Linked DNA regions of Homo sapiens: all the other regions are linked to region 1. The links come from fine-mapping of genetic effects on gene expression. A gene starts in region 1. Each other region holds a variant in brackets. All regions are shown on one strand. Distances are from middle to middle. Region 1 holds the start of ABR (ABR activator of RhoGEF and GTPase). Region 2 has its middle 28 kb from the start of ABR-AS1. Region 3 overlaps ABR (ABR activator of RhoGEF and GTPase). Region 4 overlaps ABR (ABR activator of RhoGEF and GTPase).

Region 1 (4,000 bases):
ACTAAAAATACAAAAAATTAGCCGAGAGTGGTGGTGGGTACCTGTAATCCCAGCTACTCAGGAGGCTGAGGCGGGAGAATCACTTGAACCCGGGAGGCAGAGGTTGCAATGAGCGGAGATTGCGCCACTGCACTCCAGCCTGGGCGACAGAGCCGAGACTCCGTCTCAAAAAAAAAAAAAAAGAAAGAAAACGCTCCTGTTCCATGGCATCCAGTGCCTAGAATCAGGCTGAACCAGGCTCCACGTGGCCCCACGTGCCTCCCCCAACTCCTGCCTGGGAGATGTGCTGAGAGAGTGGGAGGGTCCCACTCACGTGGGCCAGGAAGGGCGAAATCCACTATGTAAGCCCAGGAGGACCCTCTTCCTAATCCCTGAGAGCTTTCGGGAAAGGTGTCTCAGGGAAGGGTGGGGAGAAGGGGCGGTGCCTTTCTAGCAACGGAGCAGGAGCAAGGTGCGGTGGTGGGGGCGGGGGGCGGCTCTCGGTTCGCCCCAAGCCCCCCCACACCATTACCCGTGATCAGTTACGCATCCCCCGGGGCCATGCAAGAGCAATCACATGATCCAGAGAGATTTGGGAGCGAGGGGGTGGAGAACTCGAGAAGGTTTGTTTTTTTTTTCTTCTGAGGGTGGTGGTGATGATGAGGGTGGGGGTGGTGATGAGGCTGGCAGGAAAGATTGCTGAGCCCGGGATTTTCAGCTCCCGCATCCAAACGGCCCCCGCGGATATCTGCACCCCCCGTCTCCCCTCCCACCCGATCCCACCCCAGCACCGAACCCCTGGGCCCTGAACCACACATGACCCGGTGCCCCTGGGGTGGCAAACTCGGGTGCCAACGACTGCTCCCAAAACGGCCTTTCGGCTTCAGCCTGGACAGAGAAGCTGCCGGTCCAGGGGCGGGGGCAGCACCCAGAAGGGCCTCCCTCCCCTGAGGCTCGCGGAGGCCGGGTTCACAACAGGTGGGAGGGGGGACGCAGCTCTCGGCTCGGTCCGCCCACGGTCCCCGCCCCCGGACCGCAGGAATCCTCTCTGGGGACCCCCCGCCCGCGCCCCCCAGACCAGCCCGGCTCCTGGGTCCCGACCCCGATCCCGATTCCCAACCCGACCCCGATCCGGACCCCGATCTCGCCCCCGCCCGCGCTCCCCGGACCAGCCCGGTGCCTGGGTCCCGATCCCGATCTTGGGGTCCCGATCCCGATCCTGGGGTCCCGATCTCCATCCTGGGGTCCCGATCCCGATCCTGGGGTCCCGCCCCCGCCCGGCACACGTACTGCTGTAGAGGGTGTCGATCCAGGACAGGCGCGGCAGGCCCCGGTGGCTGAGCGGCTCCATCCCGCGGCGGCGGCTCGGTCAGATCCGAAACCCGACCCTCATCGCGCAACAAAGGAGGGAGAGCGGGCGGGAGCCGGGGGAGGCCGAAGTTGCGAGCGCGGAGGGGCGAGGAGGCCGGGAACCAGGTCCCCGGGAGGAGCGCGGGGCGGCCGGGGCAGGGGCGAGGGCGGGGCGGGAGCCCCCAAAACCCTCCCGAACCCTCCCGGCCCCAGCGGCCGCGCCGAGCCCAGCTGCGGATCCCGGAACCGATGAGCAACTTCGCGGGGGGCGGGGCGGGGGTGGGGCTTCGTGGTGGGGCGGGGCTTTGGTGCGGGGGCGGGGCTTTGGTGCGGGGGCGGGGCGGGGAGGGACCAATCGGCTCGAGGCTCCGCCCTCCGCAGGACGCCCCCGGCCGGGCTAAGGGGGCAGCGGGGCTCCGGCGCTGGGCGAGGAGGGGCCGCGGGGGTCTCGGGGGGTCTCCAGGCGGCGGCGCAGACCCAGGTCCCCCTCGTCCCCCCCGCGCCGGGCTCAGCAGGATCCTGGCGATCCGCAAACCAGGTGCCGTGGGGGGCCCGGGAGCCCACAGGGGTGACATCACCTCCCGCCCGGGATCTCCAAGCGCGGCTTCGCGGGCGGGAGCGGCGGCCGGGCCCCTCCCCAGCCAGACCCGCTGCGGGACCCACGGGGTGAACGTCCTGCGCGCCGCGGGACGCGCCTCTCTCCTCCCGAACCTTCCCCCGCTCGTCCCTTTCCACACCCCTGACCTCTGAGCGCGGCCGTTCCCGCCACACATGGAGGGGGGCGGGTGGAGACCCGGGAGGACCGAAGTCACGGGGGCTGTGGGGCCAGGACAGTCCCACATGTGCCCCTCCTGGGCGGAGGACAAACTGGAGCCAGGAGAAGCCCCAAGGGCTCCACGCGTTCCCCTCCAGGACCCCTCCTGGGGACCCCGAGCCGCGGCCTGGAAAGCCCATCGTGTTTGCATCATCACCTAGAAATGGTGGGAAGTCGGGTCAAGAGGCCTGAGAAATGACCGTTTAGAGACGAAATTCCCTCTAAGGAAGACCCCCTCGCCCAAGGGCAGTGAAGAGATTGGGGGCCCCATGCCTGTCTCCTGTGGGCTGATTCTGTGGGAGCCATGGCAGCTTCCCCACAGACCTCTTTGGGCCAAGCGACCCTGGAGCAGGGAAGGACAGGAGGGGAGTCAGGCCAGGGGGGTCCAGGGCAGTGGGGCTGAAGCCCCTTCCTGAACCCAGGGAAAGGGAAGCAGTGGGGCCCACCCAGGGGGCCCGGTACCCCAGATAGTGACATTTCAGATACCGGAGCTGTCTCCACCCCACCCCATCCCCAGGCAGCTTAAGGGGAAAACTTCTGGGAGCCCAGCCCTACAGAGGCCTACCAGGAAGGTTAAGTCAGCCTGGCCTTTGCCGGGGGCAGTGTGGTCGGCACCCGCAGAACGCTGGAGGGGTGTGGGGGTCGGTCCTCATCACTCCAAACAGACACACACACATCTAGTTCTTAAGGGGAGAAGCAGCTCCTCCCCCAGGATGCTGAGAGGAAGCCCCATAAGCTGCTTGGGCAGAGGCCTCTGCAGCTGCCCCAGGGGAGATGGGGGTCACCCACTCATCACAGGCTGGGGAGCCCCTGGGAGACGCACAGGATGATGCTCTGGGTGGGGAAGCCTCTACAGGTGGCTGCAGCAGAAGTGGTTTTCAATATTATTAGCCCGTCCCTGCGTCCCCAGGGCTCCCTCCGCCCCAATCCTCCTGGCTCAGGCACCAGCGCTGTCTCTTGCCGCCCCTCCCTGCAGCTGTCACCCTCCCACCGTCCCTGACTAGCACACAGGATTGGGAGGGCCAAGCAGGCACCTGGAGCTTGGCAGGGAGGGGGCGTGCATCTCCAATGAGACGCTCCAGAAATAGAGCTTCGGCATGGGAAGGGAACGAGCAGGCTCTCGGAGGACCGCGAGGCCGGAGGAGCCATGAGGGGCCAAGGGCATCTCTTCTTCCCACCTGGAACTCTCGGAAGACAGCCCAGGGGAAAGGTGGAAACGGGCGTGAGCTGCCGCCACCAGGAGCCACCAGCCCAGGAGGCAGCAGCACCGTCCCCTCCTCAAAACAACAACAAGCAAGAACGCTCGGGCCCTCTCCCCACACTGTGGGGTTTTCCTGATGGCCACATCCGGCGCTGACTGTGAGGGAGCTATGGATGTATGCTTCTGCGTGAGTCACATACATTTGCGTACATTTTACATTTTTATCTACAAAGGCTTGAACAAGCTATTTTCAGCATCCTCCAAGCTAAAATGTGGCAGTTGCTTTCCTTCGCGTTGCCATAGTTTGCTTTTTTCTGTCTACATTCTGTCCAATCCTGGCACTCTCGGACCCTCCACTCCACAACACGATAGAGGGTAGAGGGAGAGACAAATCTTGAGGGCTCTACAGAGGAAACTTCTGATAACGAACACAGAACACCGACTGTGTGCCCGGCTTAGCGTTTCGTTCACTAGCGTGATCTCACCGTGAATGTCACTGTTATCTCTGTTTTCTCCATTTTCCAGGTCAGAAAACCGAGGCCCTGAGCAGCTGAGTAACCCACTCAGAGGGTAAGTGAGGGCTGGGACTTGAACCCTGGCACTCTGTTCATGCTCTTTTTCTGTTTGTTTGTTTGTTTGTTTTTGAGACAGAGTCT
Region 2 (4,000 bases), 29 kb after region 1:
AAAATTAGCTGGGAATGGTGGCAGGCGCCTGTAATCCCAGCTACTCAGGAGGCTGAGCCAGGAGAATTGCTTGAACTCGGGAGGTGGAAGTTGCAGTGAGCCGAGATGGCGCCAGTACACTCCAGCCTGGGCAACATGAGCGAAACTCCGTCTCAAAAAAAAAAAAAAAAAGAGAAGTGGGGGAAAAAAGGAAACTGTTGGAATCACAGACCTTATGACTTTGTAATTCCTTGCACAGCCTCTCTTAGAAGATCAGTAACTTTGTTTTTTGTTTGTTTGTTGTTTTGTTTTTGAGACAGAGTCTCGCTCTGTTGCCCAGGCTGGAGTGCAGAGGTGCGATCTCGGCTCACTGCAACCTCCGCCTCCCGGGTTCAAGCGATTCTCCTGCCTCAGCCTCCCGAGTAGCTGGGATTACAAGGCGCCTGCCACTGCACCAGCCTAATTTTTGTATTTTTAGTAGAGATGGGGTTTCACCATGTTGGCCAGGATGGTCTCAAACTCCCGACCTCAGGTGATCCACCCGCTTCGGCCTCCCAAAGTGCTGGGATTACAGGCCGGAGCCACCGCACCTGTCCAGATCAACCACTTTGGGGCCATTGATATCAGAGATGGCCTCCCTGCTCTTGTCTAGGAATGAGGGTGTAGCAGACCCATTGAGTTATGAGTGTTTATAAAAGAGAAGTTGCTCGACCCCCAGATGAGTCCCTGGGTGGAAAGGAAATGGTGGATACTAGAACTTGTTCTTCCTGGCCTTCCTGGGCAACTGACACACAGGAGGCAGCTCTGCCTGTGACCCGAAGGAACTAGGTGTCAGGAGCAGCAACGCAGGGCACCCCAGTGTGAAGTGCCCTTGGCCAGCTGAGGAATTGACATTCTCCTCTCCAGGAACAGCAGCAGCATGTGCTGCGTCTCGATCGGGTGATTCCCACACCATCACTGCATGCCACGGTCCCCTGTCAGCCTGTGAAGAACCAGTCTCAGAGCCACATCTGTGGCAGAGAAGTCCTTGCTACTAATGAGATTCGAGTTCTCTGCTAACGTCGCGGTAGAGAAGTGCTGACCACTGCTCCCTTGTTGACTCTGTAAGGGAGAGGTTCAAGAGGGAGCTGCCGGCCGGGCACAGTGGCTCACGCCTCTTATCCCAGCACTTTGGGAGGCCGAGGCGGGCGGATCACGAGGTCGGGAGATCGAAACCATCCTGGCTAACACGGTGAAACCCCATCTCTACTAAAAATACAAAAAATTAGCCGGGTGTGGTGGCGGGCGCCTGTAGTCCCAGCTACTCGGGAGGCTGAGGCAGGAGAATGGCATGAACCCGGGAGGTGGAGCTTGCAGTGAGCCGAGATCATGCCACTGCGCTCCAGCCTGGGTGAGAGTGTGAGACTCCGTCTCAAAAAAAAAAAAAAAAAGCCTGCTTTGTGCCTGCCAAGTCAGTTAAAGACGGCAAGTGCTTAGTATGGGTCTCTCTTGTACATACATGTATGTAGTGAACACCTGTTTGCTAGCCTAGTACCACAGTTACACTGAAGGCTCCTGAAGCAGAATTTTGAACTCTTTCCCTTGGTTCACTGCTCGGCTCAATGCAGGTGCCAATAAAGTTTGCCTTCATGGTGCCTGAATCCCTTTCTTCCGGATGGAGTTCATGGGAGCTTGGAATTGATAGAGTTCATGGGAGCCTGGAACTTACAGTCATAAAATCAGACATACAGTGTTTTACTCTCTGCAGCTGCGTTGAAGTGGGTGGTGTTTTATTGTTCACATCCTTCTCTTTTAACCTGTTTGTTTCTTTCTTTTTTTTTTTGAGACCGTCTTACTCTGTCCTTCAGGCTGGAGTGCAGTGGTGTGATCTCGGCTCACCGCAACCTCCACCTCCTGGGTTCAAGCCATTTTCCTGCCTCAGCCTCCCAAGTAGCTGGGATTACAGGCATGCGCCACCACGCCTAGCTAATTTTTGTATTTTTAATAGAGACAGGGTTTTGCCATGTTGGCCAGGCTGGTCTCGAACTCCTGGACTAAGGTGATTCACCTGTCTCGGCCTCCCAGTGAGCCACCATGCTCAGCCAAAGTTTGCTTGAATGGTGCCTGAATCCCTTTCTTCCAGATAGAGTTTATGGTAGCCCAGAACTGACCTCTCGTGGTCATAAAATCAGACATACAATGCCTTACTCTCTGCACCTGCTTTGAAGTGGGTGGTGTTTTATTGTCCACATCCTTCTCTCTTAACTTTCTAATACTTGGTGACGTGGACACCCCACACACATACGAGTTACACATATACATAG[A/G]TAATTATACTGTTTTGTTGACCTTTTTCATTGAGCAGTTTGGAGGTATAATCACTCTAAATTTTCTGCAGCAATTCTTTTAAGCACTGGAAAAAGTTGCATTTATCAAAGTCCAGCAGGTATCCCCAGTTATTTACAAATTCAGCAAATTTACGAATCACAACAAAGCTGCCATCTTAACTCCACGATGATCTTTGCTGCTGAAGAAAACAGATACATATGCCAAAGTGCCTTCAGAACCTCCAACAAATTAAAAAAAGAAAACACATATCTTTCATGGCAAAGACACCTAAATTAGTAAAGCACTAAATTAGTGACGGCTGATCTCTTAGAGAGACAGGGAGAAAGTAGAGGTAGAAAGTAACAGAATCTAGAGAGGCGGAAGCTCAGCCCAGCTGTGTTGGTACTGTGGGGGCTGTCACTTTTTACCTGCGTAGAAAGTTCTGACCTAAGCCGGGCGCCGTGGCTCACACCTGTAATCCCAACTCTTTGGGAGGCCGAGGTGGGTGAATCACCTGAGGTCAAGAGTTCAAGACCAGCCTGGCCAACATGGTGAAACCCCATCTCTGCTACCCAGCTTCTCCGCACTATCGTCCACGTTATCACTCAGCTTCTCTGCACTATCGTCCAGGTGTCACTCAGTTTCTCCATGCTGTTGTCCGCGTATCACTCAGCTTGTCTGCACTATCGTCCAGGTGTCACTCAGCTTCTCTGCACTATCGTCCAGGTGTCACTCAGTTTCTCCATGCTATTGTCCGCGTATCACTCAGCTTGTCTGCACTATCGTCCAGGTGTCACTCAGCTTCTCTGCACTATCGTCCAGGTGTCACTCAGCTTTCTGCTATTGTGTTTGCTCTCAAGCCAAAAATCACTTTGGGCTGTTTCCTCTCTCTCTGCTTCCTGGCTCCTAACACAAAAGGATTACTTTATCACTTTATCAACCAACTGGCAACTCCTATCTACTCACACACAAACTCAAAAGGGCTTTTTCCTCCATGCTTTGCTTAGACCAACCTTAGCCTCTTAAGGACATTTAGAACCGTATTTTTGCATCCTTTTAACATCAACCTGTAGGGCCAGATGGACGGAAAGGGCCCTATATTTTAAAGGTGCCAGACATTTACCACCTCATATCAAGCACTTGGCAAAGCCTGCCAAACTCTGGGGTGCTGGACTGGCTGCTGAAAAATCTCCCGAGCTTGTTAAAAACAGAGATTCCTGGCCGAGCGTGGTGGCTCACGCCTATAATCCCAGCACTTTGGGAGGCCAAGGCGGACGGATCATGAGGTCAGGAGTTTGAGACCAGCCTGTCCAATATGGTGAAACCCCGTCTCTACTAAAAAATACAAAAATTAGCCAGGCGTGGTGGCAGACGCCCATAGTCCCAGCTACTCAGGAGGCTGAGGCAGGAGAATTGCTTGAGCCCAGGAGGCAGAGGTTGCAGTGAGCAGAAATCTCTCCACTTCTTTCCAGCCTGGGCGACAGAGTGAGGCTCCGTCTCAAAAAAATGAATAAATAAATAAATAAATAAATAAATAATGAAAAATAAATAAAAATATGGATTCCAGGTTTTGCTCTGACCCAGTGGGATTCCATTTCAGTGGAGCTAGCCACCAAAAATCGATCTTCTTCTGCTGTTCCTGCAGAGGTGTCTGACTTGCAGTCAGTCCTTATCTAAATTATTCCAGGTCCTGTGGCAGGTGCTTAGAAAACAAAGC
Region 3 (4,000 bases), 72 kb before region 1:
ACGCCTTGTGAGGGAAGATCACGCCTTGTTCCTCTTGTCATCTCTACAGTGCCAGGCAGGGTGCTCTGAAGAGCACCTAACCTGAGAGTGTTTGTTGAATGAATCCAGGAGCTTTCTTCCCACCGCTCTGTGGCCACCTGCTTGTCTTCTCCCTCTGAGGCCAATGCCGGTAGAGGAGGGAGGAATTCTAGAGGTGTTCAGGATGGAGCAGGGAGCCTGGAACTCCCCGGCATTCGAGAAAGGTCTCCTTCCCCCATGCTGGCAGCAAAGTAGAGGGGAAGACACCATCCCGGTGCTCACGGGGACCCAGGAGGAGCAGCGTTTTCAGGTGTGACACGTGCTCAGGCTCTCTTGGCATCCGTGGGCCACCGCCGTACACAGCAGGACACCTCTGAGATGGAGCGAGGCTGGGAACCTGGTGCACCCTTCGTGGGCCCCAGCGGGCCTCACACATTGTGCAGACTCTCACAGGCACCAGCCCCACACCAAGCACTGTGCAGTGTTCAGCAATGAATATGACATGGTCCTGGTCCTCCAGGAGAATGGGATATAATTGCGGAGGCAAATGTCTAGAGTTCTGAGCATCTGAGCAGAATGAAATACGGGCTTAGCTGAGGCATACGCCGGGGTCCAGCAGAAGGGGAGGTCCAGGAGGCAGCCTCTGAGTGGGCCCACATCTGTGCTGGGGGCTTCCCAGAGGAGGCCCATGAGGGCCACACACCTCCCATCCCAGCATTGCTACTCCCAGCCTGACTCCTGGCTCAGGAGCAGACTTTCCCACCCTGTTCCTAGTGGGGAGGCTGGTCAGACCCTAAGTGCAGAGGCCTCCCTGAGCCCACGGGGAGACGTGACTTACCCCCACGGCCCTACGCCAGCACCAGATCAGAGAAGACAGGGTGGGGTGCCAGCCACTGCCAGCCTCCCTACAGCTCCACTCCCCACCCAGGCCTGCAGCCACCGCTCCACCCATACTCACACATCAGCCATCTCCCGTGGTTCTGCATCTATTTTTACCTCCATTGGCTCCTCCTCAGAGCCACACTGTAGAGTGGGTGGGGCAGGACTGTGATCCCCATCTTCTGTGAGGGGCAGGGAGGCCCAGAGAGGTTCAGGGACAGCCTCCCGTCCCCAGCAATGCTGGCTGCACATGCCTTCTAGGCCCCGCCGATGGGCACTCGGTTAGGCAGCCTCGCCTAGCAGTCTGCAAACTCCCCGAAACGCATCCTCACTGGGCCTCCCTTCTCGACACAGAACCAGAGAGCAGCTGAGCAAAAGGCTGAGGTGGAAGCTCTGAGAGGTGTGTCCAGGAGAGAAAAAGGAAGACCGCTGTGGTGTGCCGGGCCAGACTCACAGAGCCGGCGTGGTTCCGGGGCCGCCCCGCTCCTCAAGGGATTCTGGCCACCACTGCCCTCCAGTTCCACCGGGAGCCAACCTCTCCTACAGGACGGGTCACTGCTGCAGAGAACGCCGTCAGCCCCAGAGCGGGTGGGCCAGGGCCCAGCAGATGCTCCCTGCCTGTCCCGCCTCGGGAAGGGCACCTGCCCACCTGGCTGCAGCCTCCAAGCCAGCTGTTCCCTCCCCCCTTCAGCTGACCCAGTGCTTTTCCTTCAAGGAAGCTCAGTGACCTCTGGCTCTTGCCCTTTGCAAACACCCTCTTGCCTCAGCTCGGAGACACCAAGTCCCTGTCTCCTGGCTGGGAAGAGGGTGGCCCCTCTCTTGCGGTTGCCGTGGAAACGGGGGATTCCTGCCCACCCGCTCCAGGGAGGCGGCGAGGCTCGGGCTGACAGGCGCGCCAGGTGACTCCTGGCACAGCCGCCGGAGCCCTGAGCTGGGCTGGCCTGGAGGGGGCGGCCACCACTGCCCCGAGGACACCGGTCGGGGAGGCAGGCCCGCCCCTCTCCCCCGGGAACAGCTGCCGGGGCCGGGACCCTCCGCCGAGGGCTTCCACCCGGCCGCGCGCTCTGCGCCCGCATCAGCCATTTCTCCCGCGCACCTTCGGCAGCGCCGGCCCGGCCCCCCCCAGCGCCCAGGGCGTGTCACGCTCCCACCTTCACAGCCACCAGGAAGGGGGACCCTGAGCCGGGGCTGGTCGGGGTTCCCAGCTCGCACTCCTCCAGGAGAAACACATCTTCGTCCTCCAGAACCTTGTCCAGCAAGCCTATCGCCTCCTCTTCCTCCTCCATGGCAGCCGGAGCCCGCGGAGGGCAGACAGGAAGCGGGGTCCACGCAGCGGCGGCGGGAGGAGGGAGGAGGGAGGAGGCGGGCGGGAGGGGGGGCAGGTCTACACCCGCGCGCCCGGCCTGGGGCTCCCGACCCGGGAC[T/C]GCATCCCGGACCTAGTCCAGCCCGCTCCGCCGCCGCCGCCGCCGCCTCGCGCGTCCTCGCCCGGCGAAAGGGGGAGCAAGGCCCGGGCAGCCCCTGACGCCGTGCCCGGCCCGTGGCGGAGGCGAACCCGCCGCACAGCAGCCCAGCGCCCTCCTCCGTGTCCCGCCCGGCCCCGCAGGGCCCGCCCTTCCCGGGCTCCGGGGCTCGGGCTCGCGCTCGCTCCGAACACACAGGAAACGCGCGTCGCGAGGTGGAGCCGCCCGTCCTCTGGGGTTGCGGGGCCGCGGCTGGCGGAGGCTTCTGCGGCGGAGGAGGAGCGAGGAGGCCGCGGCCGGGCCGGGGTGGGGTGGAGCGGGGAGGCCGCTTCCCAGACGCATCTTCATTCCCCGCGCGCGGCCGAGCCAGGAGCCCGGCGAGCAGGGGCGACCCCCAGAGCCACCCCGGAGTCCCCATGCGCCGGAGCCCCCTTCCGGAGGGGAGGCCCCGGCCCGCCCAGAAGCCACAGCCGCGTCCCGCCGCCGCTGGAGGAGTCAGGCTTTGCAACAGACAGGCCTGACCTGCCCCCAGGCAGGAGCGCGGCGCCACCACTGTCCTGCACAGGAGCGGTGGGCGTCCCACTCACAGGGACCAGGATCCCCCTCCTCCAAGCAGCCCCCCTCCTCCGAGCAGTCCCCCCACTCACGGACGCTACTGACACCAGCACCCCCACCTCCTCTGAGCAGCCCCCCCACTCACAGACCAGCCCCCCTACTCACAGGCGCTGCAGAGACCAGGACCCCCACCTCCTCTGAGCAGCCTCCCACCTACTCACAGGCACTGCTGAGACCAGCACCCCCACCTCCTCCAAGCAGCCCCCCCAGCCACCCCACCGCAGGGAGCCATCCTGCAAGGGGAGTGCACACAGAACCCAGGACAGGCACCATCTCCGGCCCTGCCCACTCCCAGCCAGCTTCCCCTGGCTTCTCCAATGGTTGCAGAACCCCCAACTGTGCAGGGAGTGAGGCCACATTCTGGTCCCCCTGGCCCTAGTTCCCAGATGCACATACACCTCCTTCCATGGGAGGAGGAGTCCAGAGGAGGCCCTGGGAAAAGCTCTTTTACAACCCAACGATGGAGCAAAGGTTGCAAACGGCACCCATGAGGGTGCGGGTGAGGCCTGCGGGTGAGGCCAGCCGGTGAAGCGAGCCAGGTAGGGCAGGGTGAAACCACCACTCACTCCAGCCGATGGCTGCTGGAGGAAACGCAAGCTCATGGCTGCCTGATCTCTGTTCAAAATAAGCTAAAATCTGGCTTATTAACAGGAATGCTCCTGATTTTAAAACGATGGCAAATAATTAACATTTTAAAACAACATGGTGCCGTCTAAATGAACCACACCTGTGGCCCGAGTTCAGGCCACAGCCCCCCACTCCCCCCAGAATTCTTCAGAAGCTCTGGGCTCTAGGTGGGGCTCATGCAATTCCATTGGCAGCAGAGAAGCTGCCCTCCCTGGAGAGAGGCTCCATCCTGTTGCAGAGCTGAAATACAGAGCAGGGGATTGCGGGGTGAGCCCTTGAGGGGCCCCAGGGCTAACAGCCTTTGATCAGGGAACTGTGCCACCAGGGTTCAACAGAGGCACACCCCCACCCCACCCATCTCCTTCCAGCCCCTGGTTTTCCCCTGTCCCTGCCTGGGTGGG
Region 4 (4,000 bases), 79 kb before region 1:
CAAAAGAACACAGACAGGCCGGGCGCAGTGGCTCATGCCTGTAATCCCAGCACTTTGGGAGGCCAAGGCGGGCAGATCACCTGAGGTCAGGAGTTGGAAACCAGCCTGGCCAACATGATAAAATCCTGTCTCTACTAAATACAAAAATTAGCCAGGACTGGTGGCGTGCACGTGCAATTCCAGCCACTCGGGAGGCTGAGGCAGGAGAATCACTTGAACCCGGGAGGCAGAGGTTGCAGTGAGCCGAGATCGCACCACTGCACTCCAGCCTGGGTGACAAGAGCAAAGCTCCGTCTTAAAAAAAAAAAAAAAAAAAAAAAGAACACAGCCTCCCACCTCATATTTCCTGACACGGGGCCTCAGGATGGCACTAACGGTTCCCTCACCCAGGGAGGTAGAAGGACTTGGACACAAGACGGCAGAGACTTCTTAACTGGATTGATTGGGAATGACTGCCCAGAGCACAGCGTGGAGAAGGCGCTCGGCCCCCGCCCAGGCAGGCAGAGCACCATGATGGGTTCACGATGCCCTATGCCAGGGTCGTGGGTGACAGGTGTGTTTGCCATCTCTAAGCCGGGTGTGCTTCTCCTGCCTTTTGAGAGCTGGAGCTGAGAGGCACAGGCCCTTTCTGGCAATGACCCGGGCTGCCCGATGCCCAGCCAGAAGCAGACCAGCTGCAGACTCTGTCCACAGGGAGGGACGGGTACGGTCCCCTTTCCTCTCCAACTCCAAAAGCAGCTTCAGAGCATGACATCACCCAACACGGGCGGGGGGACCGGAAGGCCCCAGAGCAGGGACTGTACTCACCAGCAACAGGGCTTCCAGCTGGTTAATGTAGATCTCTTCGCTGGCCAAGAACCCCGAGAGAACCAGCTTCCTCATCTCCAGGCCTTTCCCTGCTTCCACCTGCACAAACGCAAAGCACAGCCAACAGCTCATGAGCAAGGAGGCCAAAACCCTGCGTGGACGGTCTGCTTCCCTGCCCTTCCCCCCCGACCTTTATTTTTTTTTTGAGACGAAGTCTCGCTCTGTCACCTAGGCTGAAGTAAAGTGGCACAATCTCGGCTCACTGCAACCTCCGCCTCCCGGGTTCCAGTGATTCCCCTGCCTCAGCCTCCCGAGTAGCTGGGATTACAGGCACCTGCCACCATGCCCAGATAATTTTTGTATTTTTAGTAGAGATGGGGTTTCACCATGTTGGCCAGGCTGATATAGAACTCCTGACCTCAGGTGATCCACCCACCTCAGCCTCCCAAAGTGCTGGGATTACAGGTGTGAGCCACCATGCCCAGCCATTATGCCAGACTAATTTTTTTTGTATTTTTAGTAGAGATGGGGTTTCACCATGTTGGCCAGGCTGGTATAGAACTCCTGACCTCAGGTGATCCGTCCGCCTCAGCCTCCCAAAGTGCTGGGATTACAGGCGTGAGCCACCGCGCCCGGCCCCCCTTTCCCCTTTCCTTTTATTTTAAGCGACACTTTCATAGGGGATAAAAGTCAGATATTATTATAAAAAATATACAAAACATGCAGAAATATAAAAGGAAAAGACAATCACCCATATTCCTCCTGTAACATCTCGTTTTGCTTCCCTCAATCTATTTTCCACCTGGGTTCTCGAACCGACTTTTCCTCCCTCTCTTCCTCTCCTCCTGCCTGTCCCACACACCAGAGCTGGATTCAACTCCTAAGAGTGCCACCTTGCCCGATGCTTGCCAAGGACCGAGTATGAATACCGCAAAACGCGAGTACTTGGGGATTCCACTGGGCTATGTGTCCATTTATTTATTCATTCAATAAATATTTACTGAATGTCCACCAGGCCCTATAGATACCATGGGAAACAGACAGTGGCCCCTGTTCTCAAGTGGCTTAGACTCTAGTGGGAAAGACATTTATTTTTTCTTTTTTTTTTTTTTTTAGAGACGGAGTCTCGCTCTGTCGCCCAGGCTAGAGTGCAGTGGCGCGATCTCGGCTCACTGCAAGCTCCGCCTCCCGGGTTCACGCCATTCTCCTGCCTCAGCCTCCCGAGTAGCTGGGACTACAGGCTCCCGCCACCACGCCCAGCTAACTTTTTGTATTTTTAGTAGAGCCGGGATTTCACCGTGTTAGCC[A/G]GGATGGTCTCGATCTCCTGACCTCGTGATCCGCCCGCCTTGGCCTCCCAAAGTGCTGGGATTACAGGTGTGAGCCACCGCACCCTGCCGGAAAGACATTTAAAAAACAAGTAAAGATTCGGCCCTAGACTGGGACATGGGGCCCACCATATCCTTTATGAGCCACCTGCAGTGGCCCGGATGCCCGTCCCTACCCTTCCAGTCTTTCCCACAGCCAGGACATCGCTCAGTCTCCCCCACACGCAGGAGAACCAGCCTCCTCATCTTCAAAGGTCTCTAGCTTTCGGTTCGTTCTTTACCTGCTGCCTAAAATGCCATCTTTCCCTGAGGCATCGTGGCCACAGAAGGGGAGTGAGAGGGCCGGGGAGACAGGGTAGTGGTGAGGGACTGCTTGGAAGATGCTACACTGGTAGGTTTGAAGACAGAGGATGGGGCCACGAGCTAAGGAATGCAGAGAGCCTTTGGAAGCTGGAAATGGCAATAAAATGAACTCACTCCCCTAGAGCAGGGGCTTCCGATCTTTTGGCTCCCCTGAGCCACACTGGAAGAAGACGACTGTCTTGGGCCACACATAAAATACAATAACACTAACGACAGCAGATGAACTAAAAGAAAAATATATAATGTTTTAAGAGTTTACAAATTTGTGTCGGGCCACATTCAAAGCAGTCCTGGGCCGTATGGCCGCAGGCTGGAAAAGCTTGCCCTAGAGCTTCCAGAAGCAATGCAGCCCTGGAGATCCTTTTTATTTTAATTAATCTATTTATTTATGTATTTACTTATTGAGACAAAGTCTCCCTCTGTCGCCCAGGGCTGGAGTGCAATGGCATGATCTCAGCTCACTGCAACCTCTGCCTCCCAGGTTCAAGCGATTCTCCTGCCTCAGCCTCCCGAGTACCTGGGATTACAGGCGTCCACCATCACACCCACTAATTTTTGTATTTTTAGTAGAGATGGGGTTTCACCATGTTGGCCAGGCTCGTCTCAAACTCCTGACCTCAGGTGATGCGCCCGCCTCGGCCTCCCAAAGTGCTGGGATTACAGGTGTGAGCCATGGAGCCGGGCCGAGATCCTTTTTAGATTTCTGTATAAGAGAATAAATTTGTGTGGTTTTAAGCCCTTAAGTTTGTGGCGATTTGTTTCAGCAGCATTAGAAAAGCAAGACAGACCCCACGCTTCAGGCAAGGGCAATAGTTACTTATTGGCGGCTTCACAAATTCCAGGAACTGAGCTTAGCTATCTTTGTGGTTCAATTCACCGGAGTCTCAAAACCTGGCAGGTGTTATCATCTTCCTGAGGCACCGAGAGTCGGGACTGCCAGAGGCCTGCACAGCCTCCAGCACACGTAGCCCCGGGGGACAAGATCAGAGCCTGGAACAGCCCCCAGCTCCAGCCCCTCCAGGTCAGACCCTCAGGGGTCTTCCTGCTGCTTCCCAGCCTTGACAAATGGGAACTCATCCCCTGTGCTGGGGGCTAGCACTCCCTCCTGTTCCCTGCCAACCAAGGTTTTGCCTGAGGGTTTAGCAAATGCCACACCGTGAGCTGTAACTGTAGAGCTGGTTGGACTAGGATGGGGGGAAGAAAGGGATTTGCAGCCCCAGCCACAAACAAGCTTCATCCCCCCTGGCACGAGCATAGACCCTGGAAGCCCTGTAATCGCCCATTTCTGCAAGATCCTCCCCTCAAGACTTCCATTCATAGTCCACTCTTGAAAGGCTGGTTCTGATGGGAAGACAACTCAGGAAGACCCTCCCTCAAGAGGCAACAGTCAGCCCCAAGAGTCCTGCTCTGGGCCCCGTTCACGCTGCAGTTTTGGCTGAGATTGGAGCAAAGGCGTTGGAGAGCGTACGGATGGGAAATTAGCCTCGGTGCACTTGGCTAACAGG

What was found.
Region 2: its variant is fine-mapped to the expression of ABR in whole blood (TOPMed, PIP 0.96).
Region 3: its variant is fine-mapped to the expression of ABR in whole blood (TOPMed, PIP above 0.99).
Region 4: its variant is fine-mapped to the expression of ABR in whole blood (INTERVAL, PIP above 0.99).

What each region holds. Positions count from the first base shown.
Region 1 is chr17:1,178,398-1,182,397 of GRCh38, forward strand. It overlaps ABR (ABR activator of RhoGEF and GTPase), which reads right to left and starts at 1,584. Exons shown (of 23, transcript NM_021962.5): 1 at 1,270-1,584. The coding sequence starts at 1,330. ABR-AS1 (ABR antisense RNA 1) reads left to right here and starts at 3,230. Exons shown (of 3, transcript NR_187271.1): 1 at 3,230-3,531; 2 at 3,870-3,914. RefSeq lists an enhancer at 1,625-2,391.
Region 2 is chr17:1,207,496-1,211,495 of GRCh38, forward strand. It overlaps a transcript of ABR not described here. Among named protein-coding and RNA genes, the nearest start is that of ABR-AS1, 28 kb to the left of the region's middle. The variant A/G (reference allele first, on the strand shown) is at 2,283.
Region 3 is chr17:1,106,886-1,110,885 of GRCh38, forward strand. The region is part of intron 2 of ABR (ABR activator of RhoGEF and GTPase); the gene reads right to left. Among named protein-coding and RNA genes, the nearest start is that of ABR, 71 kb to the right of the region's middle. The variant T/C (reference allele first, on the strand shown) is at 2,322.
Region 4 is chr17:1,099,830-1,103,829 of GRCh38, forward strand. ABR (ABR activator of RhoGEF and GTPase) reads right to left here. Exons shown (of 23, transcript NM_021962.5): 3 at 808-906. Among named protein-coding and RNA genes, the nearest start is that of ABR, 78 kb to the right of the region's middle. The variant A/G (reference allele first, on the strand shown) is at 2,115.